2 separate regions of the Homo sapiens genome follow, and region 2 is linked to region 1. Evidence: fine-mapped expression QTL. A gene starts in region 1. The other region holds a variant in brackets. All regions are shown on one strand. Distances are from middle to middle. Region 1 holds the start of GLB1L2 (galactosidase beta 1 like 2). Region 2 overlaps GLB1L2 (galactosidase beta 1 like 2).

The links. PIP is the estimated chance that this variant, and not a neighbour inherited with it, causes the effect. A credible set is the group of variants that fine-mapping cannot tell apart.
Region 2: its variant is the best candidate, but not a certain one, in a credible set for the expression of GLB1L2 in lung (TOPMed, PIP 0.52).

What each region holds. Positions count from the first base shown.
Region 1 is chr11:134,329,849-134,334,231 of GRCh38, reverse strand. GLB1L2 (galactosidase beta 1 like 2) reads right to left here and starts at 2,244. Exons shown (of 19, transcript NM_001370461.1): 1 at 2,085-2,244. The coding sequence starts at 2,170. RefSeq lists a silencer at 2,095-2,394.
Region 2 is chr11:134,368,623-134,373,005 of GRCh38, reverse strand. GLB1L2 (galactosidase beta 1 like 2) reads right to left here. Exons shown (of 19, transcript NM_001370461.1): 10 at 4,225-4,362; 11 at 3,121-3,201; 12 at 2,607-2,713; 13 at 1,858-1,998; 14 at 1,514-1,585; 15 at 1,176-1,254. Among named protein-coding and RNA genes, the nearest start is that of GLB1L2, 39 kb to the right of the region's middle. The variant A/G (reference allele first, on the strand shown) is at 2,758.

The DNA.
Region 1 (4,383 bases):
GTGAACTTGGTGGCCAGTTTCCACGTGACCTATATTCCACTGGCCACCTCAACACTGCCCAGTAACAGCTGGGAGAGGCCCCACCTCCCACTCAGTTAATGACCCAGTCAGAGCTGGGGCAAGACAGGAAGAGGGAAAGACAAAGAGGATGTTCTCCTCCTGCCTCCAGAGATATTACAGCAACTCATACTCACTGGTGTCCAGCCCAAGTCAGACAGGAGGAACTGGCAGAATGTACCCATGAGGGTGAAAAAATCAAAAAGATGCCAAAAAGACACGTATTCCACAGGATCTGAAGACACGGCCCTGAACTTGGTTCAGAGCTCCTTGAGCTTCTGTTCTACCTGCTAGAAGGATGGAGAGGCAAGAAAAACATCCTTCCCAGGCAGGCCAAACTGTTTTCACAGAATTTGGTTGCAGCTCTTTATTCTCTGTTGCCATTCCACCTGCTCCAATGGCCCAAGACTGACTCCTAGTGCGGTCACCCCACCTAGGTGGGGACACAGTTACCTCACCTCAAAGAAGCTCAGGCGTCTTCCCAGCTAGGTCAGCTCCCTGCCACCTCACCTCTGTCCCACCAAACAATAACAAACCCTCAGCCTCCTTCGCATACCTTTTCCTGGGGACTTTTTGGGTGTACCACTCAGCCCATCTCAAGCCCACAGTGCTGCCCCAAATAGTGACCTGCCTGGGTCCCCTGCACGGACTCCTGTATCCCTGACCAACAACAGGCCTGCAGCCGCTAGCCTTTCTCTTGGCAGCTTGCACGCCTTGCTACCCTGCTGTATGCAGGAGGATCTGCTGCCGCTGCTCTGAGTAATTCTTCTGGGGTTTGCGTAAGCCTTGCACAGGGAGGAAAGCTGAGCATCCCACAGGAGCCAGGGCCAATCTTCAGAGAGGAATGGCTTAGAGATCTTAGGCAGGACAGAAAACATCTTGGGAACAACCGGAGAAGTTAAATGCCTGAAGTTTTCTGGGCCCCAGAATGAGAAGAAAATCCGTCCTTCTCCCAAACAATATCATGACGTCCCCACTATCTCAGAAACAAGAATCCAGTCTTGACAAGGTGTAAACATAGAGTTTGTCAGTGTGTTCTTCTGGCCACAAAGGACTTCCAGATATTTATCTCCATCAAAAACTTCCCTGTCTCCCAGGGGAAGTGCAGAGAAACTAAGAACTTAGTTTCTCTAAGTAAAAAAGAAGCAAATGACAAAGCCGAGCGGCGTAGGGCCTGCCACCACTTCCAACCGTTCAGTTCATTCGATACTGCCGGTCGGCTTCCCACTGGAGGTTTTGAATATGGAAAGTGCTGACCTGAAAGATAGGGTCAGGGCTGTAGAATCCTTAAAATAAGCACAGTTTAGAAAAATGCTGGGCTAGGGCACCCAGAAAACTTTTTCACAGGCTGTGGGTAAATCACAGTATCACTGAAGCCACTCCTTTGCCATAAACAACATTTGGAAAAGGGGGAGAGGAAAGGGTGAGCTGGTAACAGGTGAATGGTGGGAAAGTGGAGAGAGACGACCTATCAGTCCTACTGTGCAAATAAATCATGGCCCGGGATCTTGGAGGCCCACGGACACTGTTCTTACGACCCTGCCAGGCCAGCTGGCTAGACCATACCTGCCAGGCTGAAGCGCCGGCCTCTGCGGAATAAGGCGCCTCCCAGAGGCTTGGGAGGAAAAGGGGGGCCTGGGGGAAGGGCAGAGGGAGCTCTCCGCGGAGCAGTGGGGACGGGGCCGCGATGGGGTGCGTCTGAGAGGGCTCTGACGGCTGGAGGGCTGCGGGCGTCCACGGGGGGCAGAGCCCGGCGTCACAGGCGCGGCGGGGTGGGCGGCTCGGGGCACAGACGCCGGCTCCCGAGGGCACGCCGGGTGTCGCCCAGAGGCCTGGATCGCGCGGCAGGAGTAGAGTGCCTGCAGCCGCAGGGGAACTCGGGGGTATTGGGGAGCTCCCAGAAAGAAGCAGCTGGGGCTGCTCCCCCCGGGAACTCGGGATTCGCGGGTCGCGGGAGGAGAGAACCCGAGGTGCGGAGGGCTGGGGAATGTGGGGTCCGGCAGGTGCTGCGCGAAGCTCTCTCTCACCTGCGGAGCACCAGGAAGCCCAAGACGACCAGCAGCAGGAGTCCCAGCGTGCGGGCCGGCCTCCGCCGGAGGCTCCACGTGGTCATCGCGTGTTCTCTAAGCGCGGGGACCCGGGTTCCCACTCCAGTCCGCACTCAGCCGCGCGCGGGAGCCTCGCCGCGGGGGGCGGAGCCGCGCACTGGTCGCCTGGGCAACCGGCCCGCCGGCGCTCATTGGCTGGGGCTCGCGGCTCCGCGCCTGCAGCCCTAGGCCTCGCGCAAGCGGGGGCGGGGCTGGCCGGGGCCGGGGCGGGGCCTCTGTCGGGGGGGGGGCGGGGCGGGGCTGGTGGGCGGGGACGAGGTCTCGGTAGGAGAGGGGGCTGGCGGGGGCGGGGCTGGCGGGGCGGGGCCCCGGCCGGGGGCGGGGCGGGGACAAGGTCTCGGTAGGGGACGGGTCTGGCCGGGGCGGGTCCCCAGTGTCGTGGAGCGGTGCAGAGTCCGCCGTCTTTCTGCTCGCGAGGCGCAGGCGGGTGCGGGAATGCTGCGTACCTGTCAAACGCCGAGGTAAAGTCGCCCCTCGCAGCGCTACATCAGGAAGAACGTACAAAAGGCGTCCGCAAAGCAGGGGCAACCAACAGAATCTTTTAAAACAATTCAGATTCTGAAGCAAACAACTTTTTCAATAACAAATCATCCTGTGAAAAGCCAGGATTTTGAAGAATTGTATCTGGACACATTTCAGTGTGGTTCATGTCTGAGGAGGGGGGGTTCCAAATATTTTCTGTCTTTGGTTTCTGCGAGTCTTACTCTGGCCTTGACTCCAAGGGCTTCCAATTTTTTATTTTAAAAAGGTCCATATAAAACTCTCACATTTTAGGAAAGGAAGAATATCATTCTTATTCTGAAACAGAATGTATGTCCCAAAGAACATGATGTAGTATTTCGGTGCAACTTACACTGTAGCAATCACAAACCCAACTCCTCCCGGGAACAAAATTCAGATTTTACTGAAAGAAACTCGAGGAAGGGCAACGTTTTCCAGAGCATCCGGGTTTGTCGAATGTCTCCCTTGCCGCATGCTTTGAATTCATTTCCTAAACGGGGGCATAGTTTTGAACTTGTAAAGCCGACAGGAACCAAATGAAATTGCAGATCTTGGAACAAAGACACAGACTTGGGTATGAAGTGTCCTTTGTCTAGCGTTAAGCACATATTTAGTCAAGGAGCAAAAGTTAAATCAAAGAGAGGCAAAAACAAACGAACAAACAAGAGGAAAAAAACCCTGGCAGAACTGGGGAGGATAAGCTGGGCTTGGAGCAATCCGGGTCTGACTTAAGCACCGCAAACATTCCCAGAGGCGCGCAGAGGGAGGCCCACTCCCGTGGACGCGCTCCAAGCCCGCTCCTTTTCTCCATTGGGTAAGGCTATGATTGCTTGATGGCTATGAAGTCTGTGATGGAAACATGTTGGTTTAATTGGAATATACCAGCTAGCCCCGAAGCGTGTGGAGAAATTGTCAAAGGCTAGCCCCTTTGCCTGCAGGGGACCATCCGAAAGACATGCACCCCACATTCATCCTCTCACTTCTGGTCACGTTGAACAGTGGCAGAATCTATCAAATATAAGGGAATTCTCAAATGGTTTAAGCAATACAAGCATCTCCATTTTTCTTCAAACGTTAGCAAAAACTTAACATGGGTTGTGAAAACCGTGAACTCCTTGGCCCACCCTTGTATCCTTCGTTTTTATTTGTGCGAGAAAAATATACATAACTGAGTGTTTTCAAAAAAATTTCCCCTTAACCTTGTGGGATGTTCAGAACTAGGGACACACCCTGCTCACAGTCTAGGAACAATTTTACTTTATCTGGGCTTAATGATACCACAGAATGCTACAAAGTTAGCACTAACCCGAGATGCGTCTTGCTCATAGGCTGAGACTTTTTTTTTTTTTTTTGAGACAGAGTCTCACTCTGTTACCCAGGCTGGAGTGCAGTGGTGCAATCTCAGCTCACTGCAATGCCTCCCGGGATGCAAGCTATTCTCCTGCCTCAGTCTCCCGAATAGGTGGGACTGCAGGCACCCACCACCTTCCCCGGCTAATTTTTGTATTTTTAGTAGAGACGGGGTTTCACCATGTTGCCCAGGCAGATCTCAAACTCTTGACCTCAGGTGATCCACCTGCCTCGGCCTCCCAAAGGGCTGGGATTACAGGCGTGAGTCACCATTTCCAGCCTGAGACTTTTGTTTTTTAAAACATTAGGCCGGGTGCGGTGGCTCAAGCCTGAATCCCAGCACTTTGGGAGGCCGAGGGGGGCAGAT
Region 2 (4,383 bases), 39 kb before region 1:
ACTCCACAGTGTGGGCCCAGGGGACCCTCAACAAGGGCTCAGGGAAGCAAAGTTAGGAACAATGGTCAGGCTGGTGCTCCTTCCAACTCCCAGGAGAACAACAGAAGTGAGGACAGGCCCAGAGAGGGAGCTGTCTAGGGTAAAGGAGTGTGGGCCTGGGTGGTGCTAGATGCCGCTCTGAGGCCCATCTAGAAGGGCCCTGATCCCCAGGATCCAGGCCCCAGTGTCTGGGCCACGTGGCTTTCCTGGCAGGCCACCAGACGGCTCTCGGAGGAAATGTGGACCAATAAGAGCTCTTCAAGTTTCCTCCGTCACAAACGCAGACACCGTGAGAGAGCTGGGAGGTCACCGGTGCTGCTCACCACAGTCGCATTCATTTTGTTCTGAGTTCTTTTTTTATAACTTACCTGAAACCACCCACATTTAGCTAGATTTTTTTTAAAAAGGAAGGGCTAAATTTGGGCACGGTGGCGGGCGCCTGTAGTCCCAGCTACTCGGGAGGCTGAGGCAGGAGAATGGCATGAACCCGGGAGGTGGAGCATGCAGTGAGCCGAGATTGCACCACTGCAGTCTGGCCTGGGTGAAAGAGCGAGACTCCGTCTCAAAAAAAAAAAGGAAGGGCTAAATTAAAGCATAAAAGATTTAGTAGGCCAGGAAACATAAAGCAAATTGGCGGCCTATTCCCAGAGGGGTACGCTACCAACAGGTGTTTTGTTTGCTGTATGTCCCGCATCCTCCTCCCCCAACATCTGAGATAAGCTTTCCCAAGATGGATCAAGAAGAGAACTTCAGTGTGGAGGCCCAAGAAGGCAGGGGTCTTGTGCCTTTCCTTGGATTCCTGGAAATCACATTCATTGCTCCTCACTGCCGCCCCCCCAAGCAGACATCCTTGCAGAAACCGACTGCAGCCCAGGGGAGACAAGAGGCCAGCTCAGTGTTCACAGTGTTTATCACGAGCACGCAGACGATGCACGCGTGCAGTGCTAACAGGACAGGGGCCACAGCCCAGCGGAGTTTCTCTGGCCCACTCAGAACTGGCCTCATGTATGGGACAACCCAGCCTCCACCTCCCTGCAAGAGGCCTCCATGGCCTGGTGGCCTGCTAGCATAGAGAAGCAATAGCCACCTGTGTGTCCAGCATGGCCACTCTTCTTTTGACACATTCTGGGACCCACCTTTGCGCTGGTCATCAATATTCTCCCCATAGTTGACTCGCCCACGATTCTCCACCAAGATCCTCAGCACGGTGTAACCCTGCCGGGAACACGGGGCTAACGATGACTGTCAGAAGGCCACAGCTGCCCCTCAGAATTTGCTTGTGGACCCCAGTTCTTCCCTACGCTCTGGGGATGGGAGTGTACATCCCAGCTGGGCAGAAAGCCACACTCGCCCTCTCCACCTACAGCTTGTGGGTAAGGAGCCACGGGTCTCCCAGGTTTTCCTCAGTGACTGCCCCCAGACTTCCTCGAAGCAGCGGGGGCTAGCCATCACCCAGCTCCCAAAAACAACGAACCTGGATCAGGGGGACAGCAATCTTCGTTGTCTTGTAGTCCAAGAATCCTATGGATACTGTGTTCACAAACACCTGCCAAAGGGAACAGGCAGGAACATCCATGACCAACAGGAGGAGGGTAAGCGGGACCTCCTCCAGGCCAAGAAGGGCAGCACGCGTGCCTGTAGGCAGACGAGGGGCCAGTGGGCAGAGCAGACATGAATGCCCCCTGAAGGCTCACAGAGCTGACTCAGAAGGGCCATTGTCACACACTGGTAAGAGCTGATTCTGAGGGGAGGGCATGAGACGCCTATTGCAGAGCTGCTCACCAGAAGGTCACAGGAATTTAGAAGAGAAGCTCCTACCTGCCCCCGATCATGCACGTGGCCACTGAGGATGCCAGACGAGGTGATGCTGGTCTCATAGAGAATGTACCCGAAGGACTGTCCATTTCCCCCATTGACTGGCAGGTTCTCCATGTTGATGGGCTTTTCAGACTTGATTGGCTGCGTACAGAAGAGATGGAGGGGTGGGCAGGCTCAGGAGGAGTGGGGTCACAGACAGACTCTGCCTGGGGGCTGGCACATGGGGTGGAAGCGGAGGTTTGGTGGGTGTTTTCTACTTTGACTTCTCATTGCACTAAACATACAACTCTCCAGGGTGACGGGGAAGAGGAGTGGGGCAAAGGGGTGTGCACCAGCAGAGTGCAGTCCGCAGGCAGGGGACACACATCACAGCCTCAGTCCGCCGGAGGAGGCACCCCCTTCTTGGGGAGGGGACGGCCTGTTCCTCTGCCCCTCACTCTCCTCTCTGAGGCTGGAGGAAGGAAAGGCCCACGGGGCCAGCCGCTGTTCCTCAGGGACCTCTGTTTCTCCCACTTCACACTCCAGCATGAGTCTGTCCTCTTCCCTCTGAGCTCCAAGGCCGGAGAGCAGACCCCAGAGCCACCAGGCACTGGCCTGCCTCCCCCCACACTCCCTGTCTGGAGGGGCTCCAGGCCCTGCTGCCCCGACGACTCTCACCTCCCGCCGACGACTGCCCCCAGCACTCACCTCCCTGCCAACGACTGCCCCCGGCACTCACTCACCTCCCGATGACTGCCCACAGCACTCACCTCCCCCAGGTACTTGAGGGCGTCCCACAGAGACAGGTACAAGACTGGCGTTAAGGGCTCATACGGCATCTTGGGAAGAAGGTCAGGTGGGGGAGGGAGAGGGATGCCTGCAACACAGAAAACAGGGTCACCCCCAACGGACCCAAATGTC[A/G]CTGCCTGCTCGTCCTCCCCACCCGGCTCCCATCCACAGACCCGATGTGCTCCTGCGTCCCAGCACCAAGAGGAACAACAGGCTAGCTCTCAGCACCTGCTGAGGCCAGGGAGGAAGGCCAGGCCTGGGGGAAAGCCAGGGCGTTCTCCCGTCCTCCACAGGAGATAAGGAGCGTTAACACCTGTAACAGGTGAAGCCGGCAAGATGGAAACAGCCTCACACACCTCCCTGTCCTTGTCTAGGATATTCTTGCACGCAGATCAACTGGGGTCGAGGTGGGACAGTAAGGAAGTAACTCTTTAGGGGTCTGAGAGCAGAAGCGAGGGCCTGAGTTGGAACTTGAGTCTGCTGTCTGCTGGGTACCTGAGATGGAGCCGAAGAAGTCTCGAAGCTTCATGTACTTGGCCGTGTAATCGCCGGCTTCTGTCAGCACAGCATCATAGTCTGCAAGACACCGGGCCCTGTCATGGTCATTCCTGTCCCCAGCACAGCACATGTAGCACGAAGAACAGGGAGAAGCTTGGAAGGGCCACAGGTCTTCATCTCAGCCATTGGGGAGGCAAGACACTTTTGAGCCATTCAGTCAAAATACTGTAAACATGAAAGACCAGGCAACTACAACAAGCGTCCATAAGGCCAGGTGCAGCGGCTCACACCTGCAATCCCAGCACTTTGGGAGGCCAAGGCAGGAGGATCGCTTGTGCAGTGGCTCACACCTGTAATCCCAGCACTTTGGGAGGCCAAGGCAAGAGGATCGCTTGTGCAGCAGCTCGCACCTGTAATCCCAGCACTTTGGGAGGCCAAGGCAGGAGGATCGCTCGAGGCCAGGAGTTCCAGACCAGCCTGGGCAACATAGCGAGACCCCCACCTCTACAAAAAATTTTAAAAATTAGCCAGAGGTGGGGGTGCACACCTGTAGTCCCAGCTACTCAGGAGGCCGAAGCAGGAGGATCACTTGAGCCCAGGTATTTGAGGCTGCAGTGAGCTATGATCACACTACTACACTCCAGCCTGGGTGTCAGAGTGATAACTCTCTCACAAATTCAAAAAAACACAAACTGTCCATGATCACAGCATGGCCCTAAATTTCTAGCTGCAGGTGTAATTTCTACTTTCTGGGACTCTCAACCTAAAGGAGGCAGGATCACACCTCCTCAAGGGCCTGGGCAGGGAGGGGAGGCCACCGTCCCTCCCTGTCCCCCTAGGGCGGTCTCCTTCCACTTCCTCAGGCCAACCTTTGCCAAAGAGGCCTCTCTGTAGAGTGACCAGCTCACAGGCACACCACCTCCCTTGAGGCTTCCCTCCTCTGGGAGTGTAACATGACTGTCCAGGCAAGTACCTTCTCCAGGTACTCTATTGCCAAAGACACGAAGGTGCCAGAAGTTGACCCTGAGGGCCTCTCCATAGCAAGTCCCAGCCATGCCCATGCAGGGCAGACCAGGGAGAGCAGTGCTGATGAATACTTGCCATAGCTGGTGACATCTGACTTGTAGTCATGGAAGTGCATGGCTCCATTCATGAAGCCAAAGTTGGTGCCTCCGTGGAACATGTAGAGGTTGATGGAGGAGCCGGCGTCCACAATGGCAGACACGGTTTTCAAAACCTCTGCCGGAGGAGGGAGAAAGG